Regions from separate parts of the Homo sapiens genome. Here regions 2, 3 and 4 are each linked to region 1. The links come from fine-mapping of genetic effects on gene expression. A gene starts in region 1. Each other region holds a variant in brackets. All regions are shown on one strand. Distances are from middle to middle. Region 1 holds the start of GLT1D1 (glycosyltransferase 1 domain containing 1). Region 2 has its middle 120 kb from the start of TMEM132D-AS1. Region 3 overlaps GLT1D1 (glycosyltransferase 1 domain containing 1). Region 4 overlaps GLT1D1 (glycosyltransferase 1 domain containing 1).

Region 1 (8,105 bases):
ATCCTTCCTGAGGTGAAGGACAACAAACGCCTGGTCTGAATAAACATCAAAGCCTGAATAGCAGCCTTTATTCTGCTTCTGCACAGCCAGGAAAAGAAAGAACGAAGTGACTAAATGGCCCTCCACTCCAGTTTAGCTGAAGTCAACCTTCTGCATAAACCCTGCCCGCCTCCTTCCCCTTTGTAGCCCCAAGGCCTAGCAAGACAGGCACTTTCAAAAGTGCACCACCAACAGAATGATGGGGGAGTGAATCTCAGGACGGCAGCTAACATAGTTATTTTTTCTATTAATTCACCTCTGAGTTGGGACAAAAGTAACGTGACCTTGTGGGTGGATGTGAGTTTGGGCCCTTGGAAGATGTGGGTTTACAGCTCAAGTTAGGAGCAAAATATTAAATAACAGGTAATATTTCCTTTTTGCCTGAAGCTTCTAACTCTGTGCCCGTTCAGGTTCTTCGGTCACTCAACATTGTTTTTGATTTTCTTTTCTGTTTTTGAAACGGAGTCTTCTCTGTCTCCCAGGCTGTTGTGCAGTGGCGCCATCTTGGCTCATGCAACCTCCGCCTTGCAGGTCAAGCGATTCTTGAGCCTCTGCCTCCCGAGAAGCTGGGATTACAGGTCTGTGCCACCACAGCTGGCTAATTTTTTTATTTTTAGCAGAGATGGGGTTTCACCATCTTTTTTTGTTTTCTTGTTTTTTTTAGTGGTAATTACTTCTTAAGCACAAAGTGTTTTCCCCACCACATGTACAAGCCAGATTTGGCCTCTCTCTCTGACTCATTTCCTAGCACTGGCCCCAAACTCTCTATAGTCCAGTGACCCTGGCTGCCTTTCTGCTTCTCACACAGCTCAGGACCTGTGTTCTCACCATTATTCCTTCCTGGGACCATCCCTCCAGATCTCAGTGACAGCCTCTTTTCGGTCTTAGCTTCAATGTCATCTCCGGAGACAGCCTCCCAGACCACATTCTCTAAAGCATCTCAGCCATCATCATGCCTCTCAATCACTTTATCTAGTTTTGTCAGAGGCGTCTGAACCAGAGTAACTCAGTCTTGAATAAGGGCTGGGTAAAATGAGGTTAAGACCTACTGGGCTGCAATCACAGATGGTTAAGGCATTCTAAGTCACAGAATGAGATAGGAGGTCGGCACAAGATACAAGGTGATAAAGACCTTGCTGATAAAACAGGATGCAGTAAAGAAGCCAGCCAAGACCGACCAAAACCAAGATGGCAACGAGAGCGACCTCTGGCTGTCCTCACTGCTACACTCCCATCGGCACCATGACAGTTTGCAAATGCATGGAAATGCCAGGAAGTTACCCTATATGTTCTGGAAAGGGGAGGTGTGAATAATCCACTCCTTGTTTAGCATATCATCAAGAAATAACCATAAAAATGGACAACCAAGGCCAGGCGAAGTTGCTCATGCCTGTAATCCTAGCACTTTGGGAGGCCAAGACCAAAGGATCACGTGAGGTCAGGAGTTCGAGACCAGCCTGGCCAACATGGTGAAACCCTGTCTCTACTAAAAATACAAAAATCAGCTGGGTGTGGTGGCAGGCGCCTGTAATCCCAGCTACTCCGGAAGGTAAGGCAGGAGAATCGCTGGAACCGGGGGGCAGAGGTTGCAGTGAGCTGAGACCCCGCCATTGCACTCCAGCCTGGGCGAAAGAATGAAGCTTTGTCTCAAAAAAAAAAAAAAAAAAAAAAAAGGCAACCAGCAGCCCTTGGGGCTGCTCTGTCTATGGAGTAGCCAGTCTTTTATTTTTTTACTTTCTTAATAAACTTGCTTTCACTTTAAGGACTCGCCCTGAATTCTTGCTTGTGCAAGATCCAAGAACCCTCTATCGGGTTCTGGATCAGGACCTCTTTCCGTTAACAGTTTTGTTTTATTTTTTAGAGTTTTGATCTGCCACCCAGGCTGGAGTTCAGTGGTGCAATGTCACTTCGCTGCAGCCTCAACCTCCTGGGCTCAACTGATCCTCCTGCCTCAGCCTCCTGAGTAGCTAGGACCACAGGCATGCACACACCACATCAGCTAATTTTTAAATTTTTTTTTGTAGAGATGAGGGTTTCACCATGTTGCCCATGCTGGTCTTTAACTCCTGGGCTCAAGCAATCCTCCCATCTCAGCCTCCCAAAGTGCTGGGATTACAGGCTTGAGCCGCCATGAAAGCCTGCCCTAGGTTTTTTGTTTTTTTTGTTGTTGTTGTTGTTTTTTTTTTTTTTTTTTTTAGATGGAGTCTGGCTCTGTCACCCAGGCTAGAGTGCAGTGGCGTGATCCCAGATCAATTGGCTCACTGCAACAGCTGCCTCCCAGGTTCAAGCGATTCTCCTGCCTCAGCCTCCTAGTTTTGCTTTCTTAATAGCACTAATCCCTATGTGAAATCACCTCCTTCATTCCTCTCCCATACTGGGATGCTGGTTCATCCAACAGAGCCAGGAACACAAAGGGCTCCTCACTGCTAAACCCAAGCAGAGCATCACTGACCTATTTAATAGAAACCTGCACCATGAAACCTGAGTGTAAATTTTCCAGCAAATTTCAGAAAACTGATGGATCCTCTCTTGGTCATTTCTGCTTATGATCTTTAGGAGAAATTAGCTGAAAGGGACATGAAAGTGTTGGTGGAGTCTCAATTGCTCATTTTAATGATGAGGAGGCCGGGCACAGTGGCTCATACCTGTAAACCCAGCACTGTGGGAGGCCGAGGCAGGCGGATCACCTGAGGGCAGGAGTTCGAGACCAACCTGGCCAACATGGTGAAACCCTGTCTCTATTAAAAATACAAAAATCAGCCGGGCGTGGTGGTGCACACCTGTAATCCCAACTACTTGGGAGGCTGAGGCAGGAGAATGCTTGAATCCAGGAGGCGGAGGTTGCAGTGAGCCCAGATTGCGCCACTGCACTCCAGCCTGGGTGACACAGCGAGACTCCATTTCAAAAAAATAAATTGATGGGGAAACAGGCCCACAGAAGGGAAGTAAATCGGGAAATTTCATGAAGCAAGTCCGCTTTTACACACACACACACACACACACACACACACACACACACACACACGGCTTCTGTTAAGCTGCAGGCTCTAATCCTGGCACTTCCCAGGCTTCGCCTCAAGGAATATGTTTATCCGGCTAATACAGGCCGAGCGCCCGCTGTGCGGGTGGGAGGCGGCGGGATTAACGCGGCGGCCCCTCCCCGGGCCCCCGCCGGGCTTGCGTTCCAGCGACCAGAACACAGACCAACAAGTAAACAAATAAGACAAAGGCAGAAAAAGATGAGTGTGAAGGAGCTAACCAGCCAGGAAGACGAGAATAGACAGGGCAGAGGGGAGGTGGGAAAGGGACTTCGGGGACAGGACCCCGGACGCCGGCACACAGCCGAGACCCGATCCGCGAGGGCAGGGCTGGCACCGCGGTCCCCGGCCTGGAAACGCGCCCCCGCCGGGAGCTCCGCGGACCCCGCTGCGCATCCCTGCGGATCCTGCTCCCATCCTGCTTCTGCAGCGAGGCCTTCCCGGGCCCCTCCACGACAGGCTCCGGGCCTGTTCACCTGCTCAGTCCCCTCCGGAGAGCGCGAGGCCAATGCGCCGGCCGCACGGAGACCCGGGGACACGCGCGCCACGCAGAAGGCACCGACCCCCGCGCGCCCGGCAGGCGGCACCGGCCCATCCGTTTGTGCGCGCGGCTCGGGACGGCCCCGGCGCGGCTGGAGGGGGCCTGGCTGAGCGCCCCGCGTCCCCGGGTCCCGCGTCCCCGCCCCCCGGCCCCCGGCCCAGGCTTCGTAGGCCCCGGCGCCCTGCACCTACCGAACGCGCTGGGCCGTGACCGCGTTGCCGGTGTGTGGCCGCAGCACCGCCAGGAACAGGAGCCGCATGCCGCCGCCGCCGCCCGGGCCATCGACCGGCCCCGCCGCCGCCGACCAGGCCCCGGGGCCGGCGCAGACGCGGACGGCGGGGGAGCCGGGGCGGCTGGGTCTGTCCCGCCCGCCCCTCCCCGAGGCCGCGCCCCAGCTCGCAGGTTCCGGCGCCAGGCGGGGAGGGGGACAGGAACCGGGGGCCTCGGGCGGCGCGAGCCCTGGGTGCGGGGTGGCGCGGGTGTGCCCCGTGGGGTCCATCACCAGGGTAGCCGCGGTCTGTTTCCACCTGGACCAGGACCAGCGGTGACCACAGTCCCTTCCACGGGGACCAGGACCATCGGTGACCACAGTCCCTCACACGGGGACCAGGACCAGCGGTGACCACAGTCCCTCCCAAGAGGACTAGGACCAGCAGTGACCACGTTCCCTTCCACAGGGAACAGGCAGCGGTGACCACAGACCATTCTCACGGGGACCAGGACCAGCGGTGACCACAGTCCCTCCCAAGGGGACCAGGACCAGCGGTGACCACAGTCCCTTCCCACAGTGACCAGGACCAGGGGCGGCCTTGGTCCTTTCCCACAGGGAACAGGAGCAGGGGTGGCCATGGTCCGCTCCCATGGAAACCAGTGATGGCTTCCATGGGCTTCATTGGGAAATCAGGGCTTCACGGAACACCGGGTTGGCTGCAGGTCTGTGCCCACCGGGACCAGCAGAGACCTCGGGTTCCGTCCCACAGGGTGCTGCAGAGAGGGGCTCTCAGCCTCATTTTCCATGACAACCTGAGTGGGGCCTTGGTCCGCACGAAGCCCAGGATTCCTTTCTAGTCCCATTCCAGGGAACGTGGCATGATCAGTCCCAAATTCCTTCCCAGGCTAGACTACCCTAAAACTAACCCGAGGAGGGGAACATGGGGACTGTGTGAGGAGACAGTAGAAACCCATTTCAGGGCCGCACCTGTCGGGTGAGAAAGATGTTGGAGAGGGGAACCTGGGGTTCATCAGGGTACATGGGCTGCACCTGGTCTGGATCTCCAAACTAGGATACCTTGAGTGAGAGAAATAGGGAACTGAAGGAGGCCTCTGGCAAAATGCCATCTGTGGATTTAAACAAGCACTCCCCAAAACAGCTGTTAAGTGTTTACAAAGATGCACATGTATTTACAGATGTGGGACATTCTAGTGGGTGCCCAATATTTCCATTGACCTTCAAACTTGATTTTCTGTCATCCCCTAAATACCTTCCAGCCTCAAAAAGGTAAAGTGGGAATGAAGAAAGCCATGACATGGGATAACCACCGTCAGTGGCAGGTCTCCGGCCTCCCTACGCAGCATGGTGACCCCCAGGCTTATCAAGATATAAAAGTCCATCCTGGAGGGCACATTCGGCTCCGCAGGCTTCTCCCAGGTACGTCCACCACTCTGCCTCTCAGTGTGGCATGGAGTAGGGAAGAGTTGTATATCATTGTAGAACAATCAAAATCCTGTCCTCCTCTCACTCTCAAAAAAACACCCAGGATTTTGCTCTTCTTCCTGGTATTTCAGCTTCCCAGGCACCAGGCAGGCAGGCCACATCCTTTTTAAAGGACAAAAGCGATCTGAAAATATTATCATTCTGCTAAACAACTTAATACTTTCCAACAGAATTACATAAGCAAACAGGAAAGGGGACAAGTTGCACAGAGCTGTCACAACCCCCTTCTAACGACATTTTAGAAAAAGAGTTTTGACCCCGGGCACGGCGGCTGACTCCTATAATTCCAGCACTTTGGGAGGCCGAGGTGGGTGGATCACTTGAGGCCAGGAGTTCAAGACCAGTCTGGCCAACATGGCAAAACCCCGTCTCTACCAAAAATAGAAAAATAGATGGGCATGGTGGTACAAGCCTGTAGTCCTAGGTACTTGGGAGGCTGAGGCATGAGAATCATTTGAACCCAGGAGGCGGAGGTTGCAGTGAGCCGCGATCATGCCACTGCGCTCCAGCCTAGGCAGTAAAGCAAGACTCAGTGTTAAATAAATAAATAAGTTTTGAGTGGACTCCTGATATATTTGCTACACACCAAGAAGAGGCAATAAAACGCAGTGTCTGGTGTGGTATACAGAAGTAGAGGGGGGCACTTGCCCATGATCTTCCCCTATTTCACCTTGCCCATGGGATATTAAAAGCTAAATGTGAACAGATACATTTCTGATTTTACAAAGGCGACTTCAGCATGAGCCCAGAAAGGAACCTCCCTAAGGAGAGTTGAACTGGCAGCCTTGTGGGCTCAATATCATCCTTAGATGTATTTAGGCTACACCGTGTTTTTCATAAAAGCTGAGCTATTATTTTTTGTTTGTTTTGAGACAGTGTCACTCTGTCATCCAGGCTGGGGGTGCCGTGGTGTGATTATGGATCACTCCAGCTTCCACCTCCTGGGCTCAAGTGATCCTCCCATCTCAGCCTTCCAAAAAAGTAGCTGGAACCATAGATGTGCACCACCATGCTGGGCTAATTTTTTGTATTTTTTGTAGAAGTGGGGTCTCACTATGTTGTCCAGGCTGGTCTTGAGCTCCTGGGCTCAAGCAGTCAACTCACCTCAGCCTCCCAGAGTACTGGAATTACAGGCGTGAGCCACTATACCTGGCCAAGCCACCATTTTTTAATTGGGAGCTTTCATATAGAAGTTGGAATTTCTGATATCTGTTAAAAAATGAGAGATCTGATTAAATGAAGCCACCATCCTGTGGCTGACTGAAGCTGGGAAGCAGCTGCCTGCTTAAGATGAAATCTGAATGTGCCATTTCACACAGTGCTTGAAGGCTCACTTCAATTCCTTGATAACCTCGATCTGTATTCTTGTGTTTAGAAAAAATTTGAAGTTTATTTTTACGTAAATTAAGTTCAGAAGAAGGTGGCCCAAGCCTAATATAGTGGCTGTACCATCACCAGGAACCCAGACTTTCCTCTGTCTACTCCATCATGCTAGTGTTTAGCTTCTAGTCTCAAGATCACCTTATCAAGGAATTGATAAGGAGTAGGACTGCTACAGCTCCACCCATCACATCAACATTCCAGGCAGCAGGAAGGAAGGAAAGGCAAAAGTGGTGCACTCCAGATGGTGTATTTTATTTTAAAGTGTCTTCCTAAAAATGCAAACAGCCCTATGCCTTTATTGTGTTGGCCACGTGGCCATTTCTTGCATCCAAGGAGGCTAAGACATGCGGTCTATTAACTGGGTACACTGCCACCTAAATACAATCGTGGTTACTAAAGAAAAGTGGCAGAATAGGTTTGCAGTAAGTCACCTCTGCCATAGCAATCTAAATTAATAGATTAAAAGAGGAAATGGCAGAGGCATTTGAATCAGAGCAACTCCCTCTTGAATAGGGGCTGGGTAAAATGAGGCTGAGACCCGCTGGGCTGCCTCCCAGGAGGTTAAGGCATTCTAAGTGACAGGATGAGATAGGAGGTCGGTACAAGATACAGGCCACAAAGATCTTGCTGATAAAACAGTTTGCAGTAAAGAAGCCGGCCAAAACCCACCAAAACCAAGATGGCAATGAAAGTGACCTCTGGTTGTCCTCAACTGCTACACTCTCACTAGCGCCATGACAGTTTAGGAATGCCATGGCAACGTCAGGAAGTTACCCTATATGGTCTAAACAGGGGAGGCATGAATAATCCACCCCTTGTTTAGCATATCATCAAGAAATCACCATAAAAATGGGCAACCAGCAGCCCTCGGGCTGCTCTGTCTATGGAATAGCCATTCTTTATTCCTTTACTTTCTTAATAAACTTGCTTTCCCTTTACTGTATGGACTCGCCCTGAATTCTTTCTTGTGTGAGATCCAAGAACCTTCTCTTGGGGTCTGAAATAGGACCCCTTTCCGGTAACAGAAATACATATGACCCTCTCAATGGGTGGAATAAGAACATTCAGTAGGATTCAACACTCATTCTTGATGATACAAAAGAAGTAATAAAAGTAAGAAGAAAGAAAGGAACAAAGGAAGGAAGGAGGGATGGGGAGGGAGGCAGGGATGAAAGGAAGGAAGGAATTCAGTAATATAAGAAACTACGAAGAACTTTAAAAACTCTGTTTTTTAAAATCTTGCAGGTAAAAATTGCCTGACTCTGTGATTATCTCTTTTCTAGTCTCTCTACAGCTTATGAGTGGTTGAACCAGATTCAGAACTGCTCTCCAGAGGACTTTTGGAAATTTGGGGATGGAGAAGGAAATTTGTTGTCAGAATGATTAAGGA
Region 2 (8,105 bases), 140 kb before region 1:
AGGTGCTTCCCAGCTCCTGCCCTTCCTCCCCCTGTCTCAGTGCTTCCTAGCTCCCACTCTTCCTCCCCCTGTCTCAGGACCAGGTTCAGGGCCTTGGCTTTCTCACTTGTAAATGTATGGGGTGGTTTGAGGATTAACTGAACTATTGTGGATAAGACACTGTCCAATAAGAAGCAAATCTGGACTCTGGAAGGGACTTTATTCTAACGGATCCCTAAGGGGGCAGGAAGGGAAGATGGCAATGTGGAGAGAGGGCTCTAACTGTGAGCTCTGCCAGTATCCAGGGTCAGGCAGCCTGGACTTTCCTTTTTTGGGGGGAGGCAAAAACAAGCTAGGAAGAGCCAGTACAGTGTGAGGAGCTGGGGCGAGGGTGGCAAAAACCAGACAGCAGATCCAGAGTTTTGCCTTGGAGCCATCTGCTCCCAGGAGGATCTGCTGGGGGCCATCTGCAGCTCAGGCTGGGGAGTGGCGCAGGCCTGGGAGATGGAGAGGAGCTTTAATAAAGTTTGGTTCACATGCCTTTTTTTTTTTTTTTTTTGAGACGGAGTCTTCACTCTGTCGCTCAGGCTGGAGTCCAGTGGAGCGATCTTGGCTCACTGCAAGCTCCGCCTCCTGGGTTCACACCATTCTCCTGCCTCAGCCTCCCGAGTAGCTGGGACTACAGGCGTCCACCACCACGCCCGGCTAATTTTTTGTATTTTTTAGTAGAGATGGAGTTTCACCGCATTAGCCGGGATGGTCTCAATCTCCTGACCTCATGATCTGCCCGCCTCAGCCTCCCAAAGTGCTGGGATTACAGGCATGAGCCACTGTGCCTGGCTAGTTCACATGCATTTTATTCTGGTCCACCATGGGGGTACAGTTCAGCTCAGTCACTGATGAGGCAAAGATTGAGATTTTGAAGGGGCTGTATCTGGCCTTGTCACAGGTAAACATAAGGGTATCTGTGAGTCTCCTCCCATTCGGGGAAGGGGCTCTTTGCAGTGAGGGGTGTCCTGACCTTTGCTGTCTTCCAGGTGTCAGCAGACAGGGAATATCTCCAGGGACTGTGGGAAATTAATCCACTTGAGCATCAGCCAGTTTTACAGTCTCCTGCCCCACAGCCTGTTCTTCCCCAAACCCTGGGTGGAATGCGGACACCTTGTTGGTTGGAACCCTCTCCTGACAGCCCCAGTAACTTATAGATGAGCCTGACTGAGCCTTCCTCAGTGCCACGCTAGAGCCTCCATCCCAGGGGCAGCTACAGCTTCATTACCATCACATGTGACCTGTGCTGACATGAGACTCACTGTGTCTTTGCAGCTGGGGCCCAAGCTCTACATGCAATGACATACCATCTCCCCTCTCCCCGACCCCATAAGCCCTCCTGTCACTTCCCCCCACGGAGACGCTGCTTTGAGGAACCCTCCCAGGGCTCTCCTTACTTCAGTCAAGTAGTAAAACTCCTATTGATCAAAACCCACATTGTGATGGAGTCATTTGTAACTCGCCAGGTGAATGAACCCAGGTATTTTTCAGGCAACACAGAGCTCGGGAAGTTCAATGTTGTCAGCACTGAGCACTGCCTGGCACAGAGTAGCTGTTCAGTTAATGTTTGCTGTGGTGGACAGAAGTGGAGCACTGTCCCCATCTGACGGTGTCTAATTCATAAACACGGCTTTGTTCCAAATCCTCTCATGACTGGCAGTTGTTTACAGAATGGCTGAGCCCTTGAGTGCATTTAGACGTCGGGAGAGACACGACAGAGAATCACAGAGAGGGACACTTTCTTCACAGAATCCAAATCCAGCAGGTCATTAGACTCTGTAAGCTATTTTTCCATATATTTTTAAAATCAAGGAATTTACACCAAATACTGAGTCAGAAACCTATTATAGTTGACTGTACTATCAATGACCGGCCTGTGGCCTGTTAGGAACGGGGCTGTGCAGCAGCAGGCGAGTGAGCAAAGCTCCGTCTGTATTTATAGCCGCTCCCCATTGTTCACATTACCACGATCCACCTCCAGTCAGATCAGCAGCAGTATTAGATTCTCACAGAAGCATGGACCTCATTGTGAACTACACATGTGAGGGATCTAGGTTGTGTGCTCCTTATGAGAATCTAATGCCTGATCATCTGTCACTGTCTCCCGTCACACCCAGATAGGACCATCTAGTTGCAGGAAAACAAGCTCAGCACTCCCAACGATTCTACATTATGGTGAGTTGTAGAATTATTTCATCATATGTTACAATGTAATAATAATAAAGTGGACGATAAATGCAATGCACTTGAATCATCCCCAAACCACATCCACCCCCAACCCCAGTCCATGGGAAAGTTATCTTCCATGAAACCGGTCCCTGCTGCCAAAAAGTTTGGGGACCGCTGAATTATACTTCTTGGCACCCCGATCTCTGGATTCTTGTAAACGTCTGGCTATTAACCTTTCTACCATATTTTTATATTAGATGGTAAAATGAAAATACAGATGCTAAAGACAACAATCTGTTTTCAACGAAGCATGACTGTTCTACTAGTTGAAGCTTTCCAAAGTGCTTAGGGTGATTTTAAAGGCCTCTAATGAAAAAGGCATGACTATGGTTGTTTTTTTTTTCTTCTTCTTTTCTAAGGAGAAAGCTTTTGAAGCTTTTGTAATTTAGCAGAATGATGTTATATTTTAGGAGGACAATTCTCTCAGCCTAAATTTTTAAGGACTATTTATGAGTCTGAAAGAAGTAAATTATAAAATAATCTCTTTAAAATAGATTGTGGCCGCAGAGGCAGATGAAGTCATTCCTTTCAATAAACCCCTCCCCCTTTTTTGTATTCATTTTTCCCAGAAATTCCTTTACTCTACAAAGATTCTCTTAGAAATTACTTGCAGCCTCTTGGATGTGGTTTTTATCCTGAAAAATTGTTGAGGCTGAATAGCTCTTAGGTCATGTTCTCAATGACTTTTGATCCTACCTTCTTCATTAGAGATGACTCTGTAACATTATGGAACACTTTCCATGAGAATGCATTAATGCTCAACCTGTAATCTCAGCACTTGGGGAGGCCAAGGCAGGTGGATCACAAGGTCAGGAGTTTGAGACCAGCCTGGCCAAGATGGTGAAACCCCATCTCTACTAAAAATACAAAAATTAGCTGGCATGGTGGCAGGCACCTGTAATCCCAGCTACTCAGGAGGCTGAGGCAGGAGAATCGCTTGAATCTGGGAGGCAGAGGTTGCAGTAAGCCAAGATCATGCCACTGCACTGTAGCCTGGGTGACAGAGCAAGACTCTGTCTCAAAAAAAAAAAAAAAAAAAAAAAAAGGAGAATGCATTCTAACACGATTTAATTAATACTAATTGTGAAGCACCCCTGCAAGGTAACCCCAGCCCCCAAAACACAGCCTGAGCCAATTATTCTAATAAAAATTTGTAGAATGAATGAATGAATGGTTATATAGCCACTGTCAAACAGGATAAAATAAACCCCACAGGAAAATGGGAATATTTCCACATTTCCTGCTGGAGACTCAGTTCTGTACCTCAAAACAGAATGGCTTGGAGAGTCAGACAGTCAGAGGTTGACTTTCTTCCACTGAGCTCAGGGGCTGAAAATCTTGACTGTGCATAGGATATGATGTGCAGGGCTGTACATATGCGATCAGACGTGCCGTGCGTGTGGGGAGTTTTCAAGGAGAATGTTGACTATACGAGATTTTGGTTTTAAATGCTACCTCTAGAACCTACACTCTGCACAAGATGGAATTCCATTTTATCTCATTTTTAATGTCAATTCTTGATTTGTTTTAGTCAAGCTCTGACTCATGGATCCCTTCAGAAGAGATTTCTATTTCCCAAGACCCTCCAACAGGAACAACAATGTACTTAGTCATTCAGGGTAGTCATAAAAACATTTACAAGGGCCAAAATTAGGCCGGGTTCAGTGGCTCACACCTGTAATCCCAGCAATTTGGAAGGCCAAGGCAGGAGGATCATTTGAGGTCAGGAGTTCGAGGTCAGCTTGGCCAACACAGTGAAACCCTGTCTCTACCAAAAAACACACAAAAATTAGCTGAGCATGGTGGTGCCCACCTGTAGTCGCAGCTACTTGGGAGGCTGAGGCAGGAGAATCACTTAAACTCAGGAGGTGGAGGTTGCAGTGAGCTGAGATCATGCCATTGAACTCCAGCCTGGGTGACAGAGTGAGACTCTGTATAAAAAATAAAAATAAATAAATAAATAAAAGCCAAAATTATATATAGTCGATACATTTAATTGTGTTGTGTTTTCCAGGATTGTGTCTCACTTAACACGGAGGGACATCTGAGGAGATTCAGATGAAAACCCCTGCACTCTTTCACTCTGAGTTTTTAATTTAGGAGCTGCAGGGTTTGAAGCACTAATCAGTAGAAGCAGTTGGCTGAGGACTCATTTTACAAATGAGGATCTTGGGGAAGAAAGGTGAGCTGTGTCACAGTGGACTCAAAGGCTAAATTAAAACCTGCTGGAAAACAGTTTTCTTGGCATTAAAAGGTATTTAGTGATTAATAAAAAGTAGGATGCCTGTAACTGCTGCAGACACTAAAACCAGTTTGTCTCAATAGCAGCTGCAACTTCAAGCTGCCCCTAAAGTATGCATTCTCCCTTTTTTT[G/TG]TCATAGATCCCAGCTTTTCAACCAGGCACATGGCTGCTCAGAATACCCTGCATTTCCAAAATTCCCTTGCAGCTAGGTGTGGCCATGGGATGTAAGTGGAGGTGGAGATTGTCCTGGAAGGAAGGAGAGAGATGTCTTCATTCCTGCCTTCCATTTTCCTGCAGCCTGGAATTCAGGCATGATGCTGGAGCATGGGCAGCCACCTTGCACCATGAGGTAGAGACAGCCACAAACTGAGGATGGAAGAACAGGATGGAAAGAGCCTGGATCTTTGCCCCATACCTGCTCGGTGAATCTCTTGAGAGAGAGAAAATATGCATCCTCTTTTGCTTAAGCCACTGTTTATTATGGATCTTATGTCTGTTTTAACCAAATGTCATCCTGATACCCTCCCACTCCATAGCAGTGTCAAGTCGGTCCCTCCTCCTGACTCTTAGGTGTGTAAAATGTTTAAAATACTAACAGGATGTAAATACACTGAAAAGTAAAATTGCAAAGGTTGCAAAAGATGCAGGATTTGCTGAAATTGGTGAAATCGATGTTGGAGAATTACTTGGACCACAGGCACGTGAGGCTCTGGCAGTGCTGGAAACCGGCTAACAATTGAAGAAAAACCCAGAAGGAGGATAAGGGGGACAGGACTCGCGGAAGAAAACTTCAATTTCAAAGGAAGGAGAGAATCTCTGGGGGGTATCGATGAGGTACTGGCATGTTGTTTCTTACTTAGTTGTATGAAATATCTCTTGGCCTGGCTGGGCACAGTGGCTCATGCCTGAAATCCCAGCACTTTGGGCAGCCGAGGTGAGCAGATCACTTGAGGCCAGGAGTTTAAGACCAGCCTGGCCAACATGACAAAATCCTGTCTCTGCTAAAATACAAAAATTAGCCAGGCATGGTGGTGCTTGTCTGCAGTCCCAGCTACTTGAGAGGCTGAGGCAGGAGAATCGCTTGAACCCAGGAGTCAGAGGTTCAGTGAGTCGAGATCACACCACTGCATTCTAGCCTGGGCGACGGGGCGAGACTCCGTCTCAAAAAAAAAAAAAAAAAAAAAAAAGAGAGAAAGAAAAGAAAAGGAAAAAGAAGTATCTCTCAGCCTTATAAGGTCTTTAATGTCTTTTTCTTTTCTTTTCTTTTCTTTTCTTTTTAAATAAAGACAGAGTCTGGCTCTGTCACCCAGGCTGAAGTGTAATGGGGCCATTATAGCTCACTGCAACCTCAAACTCCTGGATTGGAGCAATCCTCCCTCCTCAGCCTCTGGAGTAGCTGGGACTACAGGCACGCGCTGCCATGTCTGGCTAATTTTTTGCTATTTTTTATAGAGATGGGGTCTCACTATGTTGCTCAGGCTGGTCTCAAACTCCTGGGCTCAAGCGATCCTCTCACCTTGGCCTCCCAAAGCACTGGGATTACAGGCATGAGCCCCTGTATACTCAGTTTCTATTATGCCTGCGTAAATAAATTTTATTCAACATAGGACAGATTTAACCTATTTTCATAATTTTGGGCTTCATTTTTCAGTATGAAGTCACAATCCAACCTTTTCTTAGACTGTCCTTGTTTTCCATGAAACTCTGGTCCGTATTCGAAGGGATGAGGTAAGTCAGCAGTTGTCAGCTTCTGCTGCACACTGGGTCACTGGGGTGTTTCGGGCCTGGGTCTCCCCTGAGAGTCTGATGCCTTTGGTCAGGGACACCACCTGAGCATCCAGATTTCTCAAAGACAAGGCTGGGAGCCACTGTTTCAAGTGGTCCTGCCAGGTACGGCTGATCCCAGGTACGGGGATCTCTGCTCACAGCATTCCCACATCAGCTCCTACCAATGACTGACCCTTTAAAGTGACATTAGAATCAGAGAGGGGAAGTGAGGGTGGGGACTGGGAAGATGCAAGGAAACAAAGAAAGAAGGAGAGAGGGAGGGAGGTGAGGAAGGAGAAGACAAACGTTTCTTCATCAGAAAATGGATAAGAAGAGCTAGCTCTCCCGTCTCATAAGAAGCTCCAGATAAATGCTAAAGAAGACAAGTTCAACCACCAGGGACCCTTCAAGGGAAGAGGTCCTGTAGCTCCATGCAAAGTACTACTGCAGAGGCCAAAAGAGGAAGGCAATTAACACGACACCAAGACACCTGCTGTGAGCTCAAATGTTTTCAAAATTCCATCCTTAACCGTACACAGGGAGTGCAGTCTTCACCACATTTTCCAGATCTGTGGGGCTGGCAAGGGGTCTGGCTGTGCCCGTGTAATCCCATTGACAAGGGGAGCCTATGCAGTCTGGTTTTTTAAACTTTAAGATGCACGATGAACCTTTGAAGGTGGAAAAGGTACTCTGTCTTACTGCTTTACTGTGAGAGTGTGGGAAAGGGCTGAACACTGGTATTTAAGGAGAAGCTGTAAGCCTCAACTCATCACTCGGACCTTCAGCCGAGTGTCAGCAATGCCTCTCTGCTACACGACACTAAGTTATTAGAGATATATATATACACACACGTGTATATATAATATAAACACACGTGTAATATACACACATGTACATATACACACATGTGTAATAGACACACGTATATACACACATCTATATATACACACATGTATATACACACATCTATATATACGCACATGTATATACACACATCTATATATACGCACATGTATATGTGTATATATCTCTATATACGCACATGTATGTGTATATATCTCTACGCACATGTATGTGTATATATCTATATATACGCACATGTATGTGTATATATCTATATATGTGTATATATACATATATGCATATCTTATATTGTGTGTATATAGTGTGTATATATGTATACTTACAAATACATATATGTATATATACATATGTGTATTTATATATACACACACACATATGTATATATAGTTTGTGTTTTGTTTTTGTTTTTGTTTGAGGCAGTCTTGCTCTGTCACCCAGGCTGGAGTGATGTGGCATGATCTTGGCTCACTGCAATCTCTGCCTCCCAGGTTCAAGCAATTCTCCTTCCTCAGCCTCCCTAGTAGCTGGTATTACAGGCATGTGCCTCCATGCCTGGCTAATTTTTGTGTTTTTAGTACAGACAGCGTTTTGAACCATGTTGGCTAGGCTGGTCTTGAACTCCTGGCCTCAAGTGATCCGCCTGCCTCAGCCTCCCAAAGTGCTGGGATTACAAGCATGAGCCACTGCACCTGGCTTAGTGTTATTTTTATTGAAAGTATTTCCCTCAATATGTAAAGGTTATAGTATCTCAATTTTATCCTGAAATGTATTTTTGAGTCATTCAAACCTGTACGTCAGCAAACTAAAAACTACACACAAAATGTCTGAACATTTTACCCAAAGGAAATCATTATACCCAAAAGACACCTGTGCTCATATGTTTATTACAGCACTATTCACAATAGCAAAGATCCAGAATCAACCTAAGTGTCCATCAATGGAGGACTCAATAAAGAAAATGTGGGGGCCATGCGCGG
Region 3 (8,105 bases), 120 kb before region 1:
TTCCAAGAGAGGTCTAAATTCTGGATATTTATGTAAAAGTGTTCCATGTTAAATATCAACAGGTAATTCAATATTTTAAGAATACAGCAAAGTAAACAAAACACATGTGCAGACCAGATGTAGGTCCAGGGCCACAGGTGTGCCAACGCTGGCTCAGGTAATGCACTTGTGATGTTAAATAATAATAATAATCATGCAAAAGAGCATGGTTTTGTCTTTAGAGAGTAATTACTCAATTAGTTGATGACCGTCCTCAGAGCTTCTTCCTTTCTGAGGAGTCTGGAGCTGCTGGTGGAGCATTTCTCATTGAATCCTTTTGACCTGCTCCATCCCCCTGAGGTTTCACCAAGATCCAGAGGAAAAGAAGTGGTGGCCATTTTGTTTTCTTGTTTTGCTTTTGAGATGGAGTCTCTCTCTGTCGCCCAGGCTGGAGTGCAGCGGCGCGATCTCGGCTCACTGCAACCTCTGCCTCCCGGGGTCAAGCGATTCACCTGCCTCAGCCTCCCAAGCAGCTGGGATTACAGGCTTGTGCCACCACGCCCGACTAATTTTTGTTTTTTCAGTAGAGACAGGGTTTTGCCATGTTGGCTAGGCTGGTCTTGAACTCCTGGCCTCAAGTGATCCACCTTCATTGGTCTCCCAAAGTGCTGGGATTACAGGTGTGAGCCACTGCGCCCAGCCAGTACCCATTTTATAAAATGAATATTAGAACCTCATTACAATCCTTCTCATGATGATGTCACCTCAAAGCCATAGAACAGAAGGGGAAAAAAACTCCTCCACGAGAAGCAAAAGCCTTGAGCAGGATGCATGCTGGGGCTGGCAGATTTAAAACGTTACGGTTTTAAAGAGCATTACATTCTGACAACCTTCAGCAAGTGATATATACTTATTTTTCCAAGATGAGCTACAGTCAATCACAGGAAAACTCTTGAATTTCAGGCTTGGTGTGTTAAACTAAACAGCCCCGAAGCTCCTCTCCCGCTGCTTCAAATACGACAGCTTGTCGATGGGAGACGTTGACGAGGAAGTGTCTCAAGGCTGGCGCAGGCCGCCGTCGTTAAAGATCTCGGGTTTTCCTCGGGCTTTTCTGGTTGGAGGCTTTGAGTTAATTAAGGCTTCGACGGTGGCTTTGCTTCTCAAACCTTGCTGTAAGACTCTCTAAGGGAGCTTGTAAAACACACACGCCCCACATACCCGCCCTCAGTCCCCGAGATACTGATTGGGTGGGTGGAGGGTGGGGTTCAGGAATGAGCGTTTTCTAACAGTGTCCAACAGCGCCCCCAGGGGATTGCAGGAAGCCTGACAGGTCTAAGGCAACCTGCCGTGCCTGCCTCATTTTCCAAAAATTATTTGGTCATGGGACAGATTTATTTTGTTGAAAACTGCAAGTTGTGAGGCTCCTCCTTCAAGACCTCAATGCCTAGAAGAGGAACGTGCATCTGACTGTGGTACTTTTCTTGTACACGGCACCATCCCTCTGGTCACATTTTATGGCACTATCCAAACTGTCAAACTGTCGCCGCTGACGACACATCAATGTGACCATGTCATCACCCCGACTGCCAGCGTACGTTGATTGTTCTCCCAGTAGCTCCTGCATCGGGTAAAGTCAGGACCATGCAAAAGAACACGAAGCTCTTCTCTAAACTCTTCAGCATGAACCTTCCACCCACCTCTTAAAACACAGAGTAGTCATTGATTTATAGGAGAATTGAAGTTATTTCACCCTGAACATCATGGTTACAGTTAGGGGCTCACTTTAAAATAAGTATCAAAAACAGCCATTAGGGGGCCGGGAGCTGTGGCTCACACATGTAATCTCTGCACTTTGGGAGCCCAAGGCGGGTGGATCACTTGAGGTCAGGAGTTCAAGCCCAGCCTGGCCAACATGGTGAAACCCTGTCTCTACTAAAAAACACAAAAATCAGCCTGGCGTGGTGGCACGCGCCTGTAGTCCCAGCTACTCCAGAGGCTGAGGCAGGATGATTGCTTGAACCAGGGACCTGGAGGTTGCAGTGAGCTGAGATAGCGCCACTGCACTCCAGCTTGGGTGACAGAGTGAGACCCCGTCTCAAAAGAAAAAAATAAAAAACAAAAAAACAGCTATGGGAATCTTCTGCAGATGGAAACTGAGCAAGCCAACTGGGTAGGGTCAGAAATAACCTCTCAGTCAATGAGCCCTGTGCATAGCAATTACTCAATACAGAGCCAGAGGACAAGGTGGTAGGGTGGGGACTCTGACCCCTACTCACGATGCTTGACTTCCCCCCGCCCCCAGTCATGATGCCTGAGTCTGACGTCCATTCCAAGACTGACCCCCAGTGAATCTGCCAGTGGGCCCTGTGTAAGCACGCTGAGCCAGGGAGGCTCCGTGCTCAGACCCTTTGCCGGGACAATGCCTGAGCGTGTATCTAACAGGCCACCCACAGACATGGTGGGTGCTCAGGAGTGACGGAGCGTGGGAGTCTGTAGCATGAGGAAGGAGGTTTGCAGGTGCAGGTGCGGGGGGGCACTAAACAAAGGAAAGCCAGCAGGTGAGAAAGCTAATTCCCATCCGATTCATCTTCACTGCTGGTGGAGGGGAGAACAGCCTCAATGAGGGGCAAATGCTTCTTTCTTCAACACTTCTTTAGCGAAGAGAGAGCTGGCCTCTGGCCAAGGGCCTCCAGTGGAGGTCAGGATCCAGCCAGAAATTAACAACAGCAGCCAACATGCATCCAGTGCTCAAAAACGTACACGGAATGAGGCTTCAGAATTCAGGACCTGGGGGATTTTAGTAATTCAGCTGCTATAGCCTTCTATTACATATCATCTCCAGCGAGGTCTAAGGCCATGCCCATCAACAACAGATCAGTGTTTCTTAATCAAAATGTATGAATAGTCCCGTGACGCAGGACAAACAGCCCTAGGTGACTTCACATCAGTTCAGACAGGAGTTTTGGCACCAAACTCACGAAAAAGAGTGGTCTTATGGATGGTGAGACAGTAAAACTCCTCTTTCCCTTCTGGCGTTTGCACAGCAGAGGTCGATTGTGCTGGTCAAAGGACAGCTGTTATTTGAGGAGGGAAAACAGTGCAAGACCTGGGTAGCTAACAGCAGGGTCACTGACCGTCGGAGAACCTGTGTTTTATTCCTGCCATTCCCGGGGCTCTGTGGCTCATGAAATGCACGATGCAGGGTTAGTGTGGCTCAAAGGCATTGCTGTGGCTGGGGTAGGAGGGAGCAAGAGCCCTTGCCATCTGTGAGCCGGGTGGGTCCGTAGATGTCCGTGTGAACAAGGACTCCGGCCATCAGCCAGGTACCTGCTAGTAAAAACGCACAGAGCTGGCAGGTGGGTCCCGACTGCATGTTTTCCAAGCGCTTTTTGGATTTTGAAATTGCAGAAAAGGAACTAGGAATTTGGACTATTCCTATGCGCCCTCTCCCCCTCCACACGCACAGATCAAGAGATGGGAGCCCAGGTCACCTGGGAACCTGCCTGAGGTTAACACATCACTGAGTGGCAGAAAAGGCATCTAGACCCAGACTGTCCCCCTCTGAGCACCGCTGCTGCATGTGGTGTGGAGCACAGATCACCAAGCGCCCCCCCCACACACACACACCCTACACACACACACACACCCCCTACACACACCCCCTACACACACACCCCCTACACACACACACGG[G/A]AAACCTGGGAGCCACCGATGAAGCTAAAAACAACTTCAGGAATATTTTCTGTGCTTCTCATTCGCTCACTTTCCAGACGATGGGCCGAGTAGAACACTAGCCATTTCAACACACACCCGGCTGGCTGAAAGGTGCTTCTGCTGCTCTGGTGTGCTTTGGGGGTTGGTGGGGAGAAGGTGGGCATCTTGAAGGAAAGAAGAAGGTGAGAGGCAGAAAAGGGAGGGAAGAGGGGGACCGGGAGACCTTCCTCTGGGCTTGTGTGACGGCTTGGCGGGTTAGAGCAGGAGGAAGTTGGAGGGAAAGAGCAGCCCATTAAAGTGCGGCGGTAAATCTGCCATTCGTTCTGGTTATGCCTGGGGGAGAGGAAAGAAACACAAGCAGGCTGGGGTGGTGGCTCACGCTTGTCATCCCAACACTCTGGGAGGCCGAGGTGGGTGGATCACTTGAGGTCAGGAGTTCAAGACCAGCCTGGCCAACACAGTGAAACCCCGTCTCTACAAAAATACAAAAAAAAAAAAAAAAATAGCCAGGTGTGGTGGCACATGCCTGTAATCCCAGCTACTGGGGAGGCTGAGGCAGGAGAATTGCTTGAACCCAGGAGGCGGAGGTTACAATGAGCCAATATCGTGTCACTGGACTCCAGCCCGGGCAACAGAGCGAGTCTCAAAAAAAAAAAAAAAAAAAAAAAAAAACCAAGCAAACAAACAAAACAGAAAAGACAAATACTTCATAATTTTACCTATATGTGGATTCTTAAAAAGTCAAGTTCATAGAAACAGAGTAGGAGGTTGGTTACCAGGGGCTGGCAGGCTGCAGGAGAGGAAATAAGGAAACACTGGTCAATGGTTCCGAAGTTTCAGTTAGGAGGGTCACATTCTGGAGACCTATGGGGCAGCCTGGTGACTCTAGTATACTTGAAAGTTGCTAAGTCAGTGGATCTTAAATATTCTCATTACAAAGAAAAGGTATGTGTGGGGATGGAAATGTTAATTAGCTCGATTTCATCATTGCACAATGGATGCACACAGCGAAACACTAAGTGATACACCATACATGTATACAATCTTTAAATTTGTCAAGCAGACCTTAATAAAGCTGGAAAGCAGAGTATGAACCTCAGCTGCACCTTTTACCAGGTTCTGGGCCTTGAGGAAGTTAACTCCTCTGTGCCTAGTTTGCTCATCTAGGAAATGGGGCTGATAAGAGCACATTTGTCATTGTGCAGGTTAAACGAGATAATCCACATTTGTATCTGCAGAGCAAGCATTCAACAGATGCTAGCCATCTTCCTTATGATGGGTCTTGTTTTCTGTGTTTTTTTCCTCCCAGAACATGTTAGCCTCAGTCTTTGGGGTGAAAGGAGGAGCACCCAGTCACACAGTTGCTCCCCGGTTCTTCCCGGGCCACAATTCCCAGCCTCCCTAGCAGCAGGTGTGATGTAACTGGGTTCCAGCCAAGGGAGCATGAGCAGAGAGGGGCGTGTGCTCCCTCCAGCCCAAGTCACACATACCTCCCATGGTGGACCCTGTCTTCTCTCTCCCGCAGCTACCTACACGTGGAGCTGGAGCCAGGCCATGGAAGGAGCCTGGGCTCTGAGTGACCGCATGGGCGGTGGTCACAGACCAAAACAACCAGCTCTGGCCTCCAGAAGAGCGAGAAATAATGTCTCCCAATGCTGCCCTCCTGAAGTGATGGGGCCCATTAGAGCAGCTGCCACTTCCTGTTGGCACCCTGGTCGTCTCATGGCTTTGCCCCGCATGCAGCCCAGTTCCGCTGCAGCCCAAGATCCCCAAGGGACAGCTTGCTCATTCAGACATGTGGCAGCGACCCTGGAGAGGGAGCCTTGACGTGTGCGACAGAGAGTCAGGGAAAACCACAGAGACCATTCTCCCGTATAAAGTGCAAACAATGGATTCTCCCGGCAAAACTCAAAAGAAGGCTGAGCTCACTAATGCGGAACGATGAGGTCAATGGCGCACAGAAAGGGAGAGAGGAGGGAGGGAGGAGGGAGGGGGGAAGGGAGAGAGGAAGGGAGGGAGCAAAGAAGGGAGGAAGGGAGGGAGCAAAGAAGGGAGGAAGGGAGGAGGGAGGGAGGAAGGGAGGGGGGAAGGGAGGAGGGAGGGGGGAAGGGAGGATGGAGGGGGGAAGGGAGGAGGGAGGGGGGAAGGGAGGAGGGAGGGGGGAAGGGAGGAGGGAGGGGGGAAGGGAGGAGGGAGGGGGGAAGGGAGGAGGGAGGGGGGAAGGGAGGAGGGAGGGGGGAAGGGAGAGAGGAAAGGAGGGAAGAAGGGAGGGAGGTAGGGAGGGAGGGAGAAAGACAGGAAGAGAGAGAAGGAGAGAGAAAGGGACAGAAGGAGAGAGGAAGGGAGAGAGGGAGGGAGGTAGAGAGAGGGAGGGAGGGAGGCAGAGGGAGGGATGGAGGGAGAGAGGAAGGGAGGGAGGAGGAGAGGAAGGGAGGAGGGAAGAAGGGAGAAAGGAAGGAGGGAGGGAGAAGAAATCAAAGAAAATGGGAGCAAAGAACAGATGAAGAAAAGGAGGGAGGAAGAAAGGAGGGAGATGAAGGAAGGAAGGAGGGAGGGAGGAAGGGAGGGCAAAAGAAAGACAATTTCTAAGCCAAAAGCATTTACATGGGATCTAAGCACCCAGGCAGGAGTAGGCGATCCTGTCGTTTTGCCGCGTGGCACTCAGCACCAGAACCTGTGACTGGCATGAAACTGTCAGAGACTACTTGCTAGGCATGGGGACAAAATCCGACAGGTGCCAATGATTGGGCGGGATGACTGCTGTCATCTGCGACTTTGAAAAGAAAAAGAAATGAGAGCAGTTAAAGTACAAGTGTGTGGCGTGCTGCATCGCTCACTATCAGATGAAAATAAAAAAACACGCCCTCTGGAAGGGTTGCGCCTTGTACGCCGGGGCATAATCATCCCTTCCAGTACTCACTGAGCACCCAGTCCATATCAGAGTCCCTGCGAGGGACAGCTGATGAGTAAACATGCCTGACTGCTGCCCTCGGGAAGCTTCCAGGCTGGGGACTGGTGTTTATAGATGGCAAAGAGTGCAGTGTACACAGACACAGGTGCGGGGACAGAGGAAACCCAAATGGGAACCCCAGTCACAGTGGGTGGCCACGAAAAGTCCTTCCAAGGTGATTTCAACCAAGAAACATTTGAGGAGGTGCCAGCCGTGGGCGCAGCTCGGTTAGAGACAGAGGGTGAGCAAAGCTCAGGTGCCGGACAGAGAAGCCTGGAACGAGGAGGGGGCAGCGCAAGCTGTGCAAGGCCTCAGAAGCCAGGCCAGCAGTGGCATTTTCTTCTAGGTGCAAAGGGGAAGCCACCAGAGGGTCCTCAGCTGCAGTGGATAGAAGCGGACTTTGACTTGGTGCCTGTGGCTGCGGGGAGGGAGTGGGCGGGCTGGAAGGAGGAGGCTGCTGGAACAGCCCAGGCAAGACCCTACAGCCCCTCGGTCCGGGAGTGCAGTGGAGATGGGGTCCAGCTGCGTTTGCAGACAGAGCTCAGGAGAAGTGGGACAGATGGGAAGTGGGGCTCAGGGGAGAGGGCGCGGCGGGCTTGGGAGCCCAGGACCCAGGACGGTGTGCCCAGCTGCTTGTGCACGCACCTGCAACAGGCAGGGGCTGAGGCTCCAAGCAGGCCTTCCCCTGCAGCATTACCCCTAAGGCTGCAGCCCACCGGGGTCCTCCACAGACCCTGGCCCGGCTTCTACCAGTGCCAACATGTCACCATCCTCTTCCTTCTGAATTCCAGGATACCCCAGAAACGGCCTTCGGAGCTGATTCCTACAGCAGCGTTGTTTTGATGTGAGGCAAGCACCCCGCTGACTGGGGACTGCATTTGTCAGGGCTGACACAGATCACCAGGAGGCCTCCAGGAAGCGCACACAGGCAGAGGCAGGGGGAGGGGAGGGTCTCTCCATGCCTGGCCCCTCCCCTAATCACAGTCCCCAGCTGGAGCCTGCGGGCTCACACTCCTGGCAGGTGCCCAGCAGGCTTTGCAGAGCAACAGGTGCACCCACGCGAGGGCCCAGGAGATGGTGGAGAGCCAAGTGTCAGGATGACGCAGAGATGCCTCCTCCTGTTCTCAGAGGTGGGGACTGAGCTCACAGCGGGAAGGAAGCTCTTCTCTCTCTGCCTCTTCCCTCTCTGTATTTTCAGAGAATTCCAGACGCGATGCAAGCAGGATGCTCCCTGCTTGGTCAGGAGTGAGGCGGCCAGGAGGAGCCCCGAGTGCCTCCGCACCTTGGTGATGGCCCAGCCTCTGTGCCTGAGCAGTGAGCCCCACCTTGTGGCTCACCCGCGTCCTGGCCCTGCTTGCCGCGCAGCAGCTCAGTGCACACTCAGCTCGGTGCACACCCAGCTCGGGGCAAACCTGCCCTAGGGGCTGCACAGTCAGCCAGGGGCTTCTCTTCCCACCTCTGG
Region 4 (8,105 bases), 59 kb before region 1:
AAGAATGACAATGAGACACCATTTCATTATCTCCCTAGAACAACTAAAATTGAAAAGACTGTCTACTCCACCGGTGGGCAAGAATGTGGAGTAACTGAAGCTCTTGTCAGCTTCTGTGGAAGTGTAAGATGGCACACCTTGGAGAACTGTTTGGATATTTTTTATAATGTTAATCATATAGTCAAGCTATTTGACTTAGAGGCATTTATCCAAGAGAAGTGAAAACATAGGTCACCAAAAAACCTTGCACAAGGATATTCATAGTAAATGTATTTGTAACGGTTAAAAATGGAAAACAAGCTAAAAGTTCATCAATAGAAGAAGAGATAAACAATTTGTGATATATGGAATGAAATACACCATTCCAAAATAGAATACTAAGAAAAAAGGTCTACAGATACACACAATAGGGATAAATCTCAAACACATTAGTTGAACAAAGAAAGCCAGATACAAAAAATTATTCAATGCATGACTCCACTTAGATGAAGTTCAAGAACAGGTAAAACTAATCTAAGATAAGAAAAATTAGACTAGGAATCGCCTATAAAGAGACAGAAATTAAATATGGAAGAGGGCATGAGAGAACTTTCTTGAGTGGTGGAAATGTTATCTATCTTGATTGGGGTATTTGTCACATGGGTATATACATTTGTCAAACATTTGCCTAATTTTACACTTGAGATCTCTGCATTTCACTGCATACAAACTATAGAATTATTTTAAAAAAAGGATGAGTTCACTCTATTCTACTGACATAATGAGCAAAGAAGGCAGGTTAGAGTAGTAAGTGAAGCTTGACTTTGTCTTTTAAACATCATTATTTACATGTAAATTGTTGAGAAAGATCACATCAAACATTAATAGCAGTTTCTTTTTGGTGATGAAATTTCAAGTGATTAAAATTTTTGTTGCATTTTTTGGCCAGGCCCAGTGGCTCATGCCTGGATTCCCAGCACTTTGGGAGGCTGAGGTGGGTGGATCACCTGATCAGGAGTTCGAGACCAGCCTGGCCAATACGGCAAAACCCCGTCTCCATTAAAAATACAAAAATTAGCCAGGCATGGTGGCGCATGCATGTAGTACCAGCTACTTAGGAGGCTGAGGCAGGAGAATCACTTGAACCCGGGAGGTAGAGGCTGCAGTGAGTCTAGATCACACCACTGCACTCCAGCCTGGGCAACAGAACGAGACTCCATCTCAAAAAAAAAAAAAAATGTGTTGCATATTCTGATATTTTCTCATTTTTCTACAATGGTAATTTAACTACGTGTATAATTAGTAAAGTAAAATAAAATGAACACATGAGGTTGTTATTCTTATAAAGAACAAATGTCACAGGAAATGATACTGAAAATTTGGAAAGCAGGTGCTAAAAACAGCATCAGAAAGGGCCAGAGCCCCTGTCTCTCTGGCTTTCTAGCCCTGCTGTTCCTCAAAAGGATAAAACTACTCATGAAGCCGCAGACAGAGGGAAATGAACCTTGTTCTCTCTGACAACCACTTTTTCAAAACCGCATGAACGTCACAAGCTCCTGAAAGTAACTGACAAGATGCACTTCATCAAAATCCTCTAAGAAGATCTCATGTCTCACCAGAGCGTTGAAGAAAGGTATTCCAGTTAAAAGCGGCGTTTGGTGTTGTTGCAATTCCTGGGTCAAAGAAACAAAAAAAGGGCAAGTTCACTTTGAAGCGACTGCTGAAATACAATGAGTTATTTTGTGTTGAGGCTTATTATTATTATTACTATTATTCTTATTATTTTGAGACAGAGTCTCGCTCTGTCACCCAGGCTGCAGTGCAGTGCCACGATCTCTGCTCACTGCAACCTCCTCTTCCCGGTTTGAAGCGATTCTCCTGCCTCAGCCTCCCGAGTAGCTGGGAGTATAGGCGCCCGCTGCCACACCCGGCTAATTTTTGTATTTTTAGTAGAGACAGGGTTTCACCATGTTGGCCAGGCTGGTCTCGAACTCCTGACTTCAAGTGATCCTCCCGCCTCAGCCTCCCAAAGTGCTGGGATTACAGGTGTAAGCCACCACACACGGCCCACTTGTGTTGAAGTTTAAATAACAGTAGCACCTGGTTTTTATAAAGCCGCTCGATGCTCTGAGTGTGTCACTGAAGTCCCATGAATCCTTCAGCACAGGAGGGTTAAAAAGAGCCCATGGATTCCACATGAGAAAAGACGCACCCCTTTCAGCCCCAGGATCCATGACAGGCCCAAACGGGGTTAGGGGTTAGACAAACCTTGAGTTCCTTAAAAATGCCAGGAAGTAACAGGTTTCAAAAACACTGTCAGCTAAGCCCCATGTGAAAATTATACCTCCCTGTAAAATTCCCACTCTCAACCCTCACCAACTCATGCCTGATGGTCTGTTGGCTATTACTTCTTCAGAGAGAGAAGTTACATTTAATTTTTGCTGAAAAAAAAAATGACTATTTTACAATTTAGAAATTCAGAGGCAACGTCTAACACGTTATCTTGGTAACAGAAACATTTTGAAATTTTATAAAATGTAAGTAAATCAAGTCATCTAACCACCTCCAAAATCCACCTGCATAATCGTTATTCACACTGAATCATACTGACAGCGGCTATTTAACAAGCGCCCATTTCAAGCCAGCCCTGGGCTCCGACTGCATGTAGGCGCTTTCCATACTCCACTGTAACCCTTAAAGGCCCACTGAGCAGACTGCTTCCTCCAGTTTATCCAGCTGGACACTGATGTTCAAAGAGGTTAAACGCACTTCAAAATGCGCAGGGTGGAGGTGGTAGACGCTGTGTTCAAACCTACGCGCTGCCTCAGAGCCCAGGTTTTTCCTGCTGCACCAGCTAAAAATGTCACTGAAGCCAATGCAGCAAGGACACGGTGATGACAGGATGCCGTGCCTCACTAAGGTGCGCCTGAGCACCATGGAAGTCCTCAGGAGGCCCGAACGCCTGGCCTCAGCCTCTGCACTCGTTCTAACCTGAGCTTGGGGCCAATTACATGTTCTTCCTTGGATCTAGTCTTTCCATTATTTCTATCATGTAGTACAGTGGTTTACAAACTGTGTTTAGAGAGGCCGGGCACGGTGGCTCACACCTGGAACCCCAGCAATCTGGGAGGCCAAGGCGGACAGATCACCTGAGGTCAGGAGTTCAAGATCAGCCTAGCCAACACAGTAAAACCCTGTCTCTACAAAATACACAAAAATTAGCTGGGCGTGGTGGGGGGGCACCTGTAATCCCAGCTACTCGGGAGGCTGAGGCAGGAGAATTGCTTGAACCCAGGAGGCGGAGGTTGACGTGAACCAAGATTGCGCCACTGCACTCCAGCCTGGGCGACAGAGCAAGACTTCATCTCAAAACAAAAACAAAAAACTGTGTTTAAACCTCAGAGGGTTTGATGAAGGGCCTCAGATGCCACCATAGGGGCAGAATTGGGCAGGGAGGAAGGAGGAGTATGAAGGGAGAAGAGTTCCAGTTCCCCCAACTCAAGTCAGCTGAAACAGAAGCTCCGCATTTGGTTTGGTTTGTTTTTTCCAAACATACTGCTGATGGAGTATATCGTACTTCTACTGGCAGAAAATGTTAAGTGATCCGCATTTTAAATCATTATTTTATAATTTCTCCTATTTATCTTTTATTCTAATGTTAGAAAAATCTTAACAATGTAGCCATTCTCAGGCAGATTGCTTGAGCCCAGGAGTTCAAGACCAACCTGGGCAACATGGCGAAACCCCATTTCTACAAGGAATACAAAAAAAATCAGCTGGGCATGGCGGCTCATGCCTGCCTATAGTCCCAGCTACTGGGGGGGCTGAGGCTAGAGAAACGCTTTAACCCAGGAGGCAGAGGTTGCAGTAAGCCGAGATCGCACAACCGCACTCCAGCCTAGGCGACAGAGCCAGACCTTGTCTCAAAAAAGAAAAAAAAAAGTAGCCATTTCACTGATTATTTTTAAGTAAATCTGAGAAATCATATTATCTCCTTCATAAACATCTCAATATGTGTCTCTTAAGGATGCAAACTTATTCTTTTAAATATATATATATATTTATCACATATAAATATGCATCTATTTTGATATATTCATTCTCTATCCCTGTACATAAGTAAATAAATATTTTAAAAATCTTACCTTGACTCTGGACATAGACCTTACCCTTAGCATGCGGCTTTTGAAAGGAGGGGAGAGAGAAAAGAAAAGTACATTGGACAGTGCATGACAACTGCTTTTTAGAAATAAAATGAAGGTCATTAACAAAAAAAGCCGTCCTGGAAAACATCACTGAGAATCATCTACACAGCTGCTCATAGACTTATTACTCTGTAAGAGCAAAGCATTACTTCTGCTTTTTAATAGGTTTTGCCATTAAAAATACAGCATCTATAAGGTAAGAAGCACACACACAAAAAGTCTCTTAAATGAGGCCTAATGCAATTTTGCAATTTTACACTTGCTATATTAGTGGAGACATTACTGAAGTTCAGCCAGAGAGCATGCCAGTGCCGGCCCAGCTGATGCAGCTCCCGCCCCTGCGTGGAGGTGGAGGTTTGGGGAAGCATGTTATGGCTTATGCATCCCTGAGGGGAAGACTGCTTCCACCACCCCCAGAAAAAAAGAAGAAAGGAGCAGGAGGAGAAGGAGGAGCTGCCAATATGTTGGGAAACCAAAGACAGGCCCCAGGAGGCAGATCCTTCC[A/C]GGCAAGGGAGGACAGCCGGGTGGAAAGCGTCTGGTAAGTTACCTCCCTGGCACCAAGCAAAAGGCGGCCCTTGCATGACGGATATGGATATTTGTACCAAGATATCAACTTACTATTCCTTGCCATGTTTTCTGGTGGAATGTCACAAAACTACTAGAGAGAAATTGAATCCATTTCTCCAGTTCATTTTGAAACAGTGGCAGGAATATTTTTAAGGTGACGTTTAGATGGAAAGGTGGAGGCAGGAGCAGAGTGATGGAGCAAGTCCATGCCAAGGACGGTTTCTCTCAAGTGATCAAAACAGGCCGTCATTTTGGTGAAAGAGTCCAAAAATGGATGTCTTTTTGTCATGTGACCTAAGCCTGATCAATGCATTAAGTGACTGAACTAGCTAGATCCCTGGAGGTCACAGAAGACACACCCCTGTCCTTCCTCGGTGTAGGGATACAGTGTGGTCTTTAGGGCACCAGGGAGCCCTCGGCACTGCATGGGGTATGCTGATCCACGTTGGACGTTGTCCCCACTTCAGTTTTATATTTTGGGACACAAGCTAAAGTGAAGTAGCCCTGCCAAGGGCGAGACAATCAACAGGAAGAAGGAGACTGGCCCTCCCCAAGCCTGGGAAGGTTTGGTAGAGGCAGCATCCAGGCAGAAGGTGGGTGGCACGGCCAGGCATGGTGGCTCACCCATATGATCCCAGCACTTTGGGAGGCCGAGGCAGGCAAATCATTTGAGGTCAGGAGGTCAAAACCAGTCTGGGCAACATGGTGAAACCCTGTCTCTACTAAAAATACAAAAATTAGCCGGGTGTGGCGGCATGCGCCTGTAATCCCAGCTGCTTGGGAGGCTGAGGCAGGACAATCGCTTGAACCCGGGAGGCGGAGGTTGCAGTGAGCCGACATTGCGCCACTGCACTCCAGACTAAGCGACAGAGTGAGACTCTGCCTGAAAAATAAAAAAAATAAAGAAGGTGGTGGGTACACACGAGGCTCGGTATGGTGTTGGTTTTGTCCTTAGCATCGCATTTTGTATTTCACTACAGGAAGCATCTCAAGCCTCCAGAAGTCTTGCCTCTCCTCCCCACTTCATCGTGCAAGCAGGTATGTGTGGTATTCCAAATGCCCTTAAAATAGTAAACCTTTAAGAGAGAGTTTCAAAGACCTCTTCTCTACCAGTTAAAAAAGACATTAACTTTAATGAAAAAAAAAAAAAGGCTAAAGGCGACCATTGAAATTAGAAATTGCAGTTCAGAGCCCTAAACTACTCCTTATGCTGAATTATAATTTCCCTGGAAAGCTGGAAGAGCTGTTACTGGAGTGTAGTGGAGGCTTGGAGTGTTTCTTCCTAAAACAACCCTGTGTCCAAAACACTCGCCTGGCAACATCTTGAAGATGGATGGTAAAGCACTCACAATAGAACACCATGGCATTTAACTTAATATAACTTAATATAAGTGTTTGACAATAACAGATTCAGCATAATCCTAGATAAATATAAGGTGAGGCAACATAGAGTTTATAGTTTTTGTCACTATTTTCATTGGAAATAGGCTCTGCAATTAGCAATACATAAACTCAAAATGTTCCTGTCAAGAAACTCCTTTTTCCACCAAAAAAAAAAAAAAAAAAAAAGAGTTAAACTTGTATCTCAGCTCTGTCAGCAGAAGGAATTGACTGAAAGTGAAGATTTCTGGACTTATCTGCTGATCTTCCCACATCTCTGAGCATCATTTTTCTAATCATTTGAAAAGCGTTGCATAAATGGTATTTTCAGATCTCATCCAGGCAAACAGAGGAAATAAAGTTGCAGTATAAAGGAAGTCTGGACCTGAGTTATTTGTAATCATTGCAATAAAAGAAATCTGGCAAAAGCCAATTGGCTTATATTGATTTTGAAAAACATTTTCTATATGAAAGTGTAACAAATACAAATTAGCTTTCTTTGCTCAATATTTATTATTGTTCTCTCTGCCTTGAAATAACATGAGTCAAAGTCCTTGTGTACGGCCTGCCTTGCAGATTAGCTCATCAGTGCACACAATGGCAAACACTGAGGTGTGTCTATCAGCAACTGTTACCTCTTTGGCTCATTACTGGATATAAAAAGCCAGGATCCTATTGGATAGATACCTATAAATAGATGGACTTCTAACAGACCCAAGGACTAACTGATACCTTTTCATGCTGGAAATAACATCAACCAAAGAACTTCCCATTCTTTGACTAAACATAAGCCAGAGATTCACCTTCTAAAATTAAACTTTCTGCAAATGGAAACCACAATAGATTATTTTTGAAATACAGGCACAATTTTATGCTCTACAGATGACAAAAATAATAGTTTTTGTTCTGAAATTATAATACAACTTCAGACTGTGGCTTTGTAAAAACTACTTGTAAAACGATTACAAACTGCTTAAAAGAAATGATGGCCCATACATATAAAGTTGCAAAATATATTTATGCCACAAAACACAAAGAAATTGGGCACTTTTCAAGGTCACAGTGTCTTTTTTCCTCCCTCTACTCTTTTCCCTTAGAAATCTGTTATCGTGCATAAAAAAAAAGAAAGTAATATTCAAAAGGAAGGCGAGGTGTGGGGAGATTCAGCCTTGCCACTGAACTCCTGCAATGGAACCAACCACACAAAGAACAATTTTTCTTTTCTTTTCTTTTCTTTTTTTACTAGGAAGTACTTTAATCATTTTTCATAGAAAAAAAATGTCCAGACACTAACACTTCACAACATTTTAACAACAAAGAAAGAGGTTTTCAAGAGTTGGGATTCTGGAATATGAGGAAGAAGCGTTGGTGTCCTGCTTCATTATAGATGGATGGCACAGGTCAGAAACGGGAGACTAGCTGCGAAGCCAATATCAAAACCCAGTGGAATGACGCTTGGACCTATCGTGTTTATTTTTTATTTATTTATTTATTTATTTATTTTTGAGACGGAGTCTCGCTCTGTCGCCCAGGCTGGAGTGCAGGGGCGCGATCTCGGCTCACTGCAAGCTCTGCCTCCCGGGTTCACGCCATTCTCCTGCCTCAGCCTCCCGAGTAGCTGGGACTACAGGCGCCCGTCACCACGCCCGGCTAATTTTTTGTATTTTTAGTAGAGACGGGGTTTCACCGTGTTAGCCAAGATGGTCTCGATCTCCTGACCTCGTGATCCGCCCTCCTCGGCCTCCCAAAGTGCTGGGATTACAGGCGTGAGCCACCGCGCCCGGCCTGTCGTGTTTATTTTCCTTCCTGCTGCCCTCCGTGTCCCACAGAAACGCCAGCCACCATACAGAGCCCAGCACCTAGCTGAGCTGCCAGTCTTCCGCCTTGGGTAGGAGAACAATTAAAAAAAAAAGAAGAAGAAAGAAGGAAAGAAAGAAAGAAGGAAGGATGGAAGGAAAGAAGGAAAGAAAAAAA

The links.
Region 2: its variant is fine-mapped to the expression of GLT1D1 in whole blood (TOPMed, PIP above 0.99).
Region 3: its variant is fine-mapped to the expression of GLT1D1 in whole blood (TOPMed, PIP 0.92).
Region 4: its variant is fine-mapped to the expression of GLT1D1 in unexposed skin (GTEx, PIP above 0.99).

The regions. Positions count from the first base shown.
Region 1 is chr12:128,849,354-128,857,458 of GRCh38, reverse strand. It overlaps GLT1D1 (glycosyltransferase 1 domain containing 1), which reads right to left and starts at 3,981. Exons shown (of 12, transcript NM_001366886.1): 1 at 3,810-3,981. The coding sequence starts at 3,877. LOC100128276 (a long non-coding RNA gene) reads left to right here and starts at 4,364. Exons shown (of 3, transcript NR_148996.1): 1 at 4,364-4,383; 2 at 5,107-5,266; 3 at 7,999-8,105. RefSeq lists an enhancer at 3,000-3,651 and silencers at 3,513-3,712, 3,903-4,002.
Region 2 is chr12:128,986,207-128,994,311 of GRCh38, reverse strand. No RefSeq gene overlaps it. Among named protein-coding and RNA genes, the nearest start is that of TMEM132D-AS1, 120 kb to the left of the region's middle. The variant G/TG (reference allele first, on the strand shown) is at 4,630.
Region 3 is chr12:128,969,440-128,977,544 of GRCh38, reverse strand. The region is part of intron 11 of GLT1D1 (glycosyltransferase 1 domain containing 1); the gene reads right to left. Among named protein-coding and RNA genes, the nearest start is that of GLT1D1, 120 kb to the right of the region's middle. RefSeq lists enhancers at 484-988, 4,822-5,321, 5,322-5,823. The variant G/A (reference allele first, on the strand shown) is at 3,673.
Region 4 is chr12:128,908,480-128,916,584 of GRCh38, reverse strand. GLT1D1 (glycosyltransferase 1 domain containing 1) reads right to left here. Exons shown (of 12, transcript NM_001366886.1): 5 at 4,125-4,161; 6 at 1,596-1,652. Among named protein-coding and RNA genes, the nearest start is that of GLT1D1, 59 kb to the right of the region's middle. RefSeq lists an enhancer at 1-89. The variant A/C (reference allele first, on the strand shown) is at 4,689.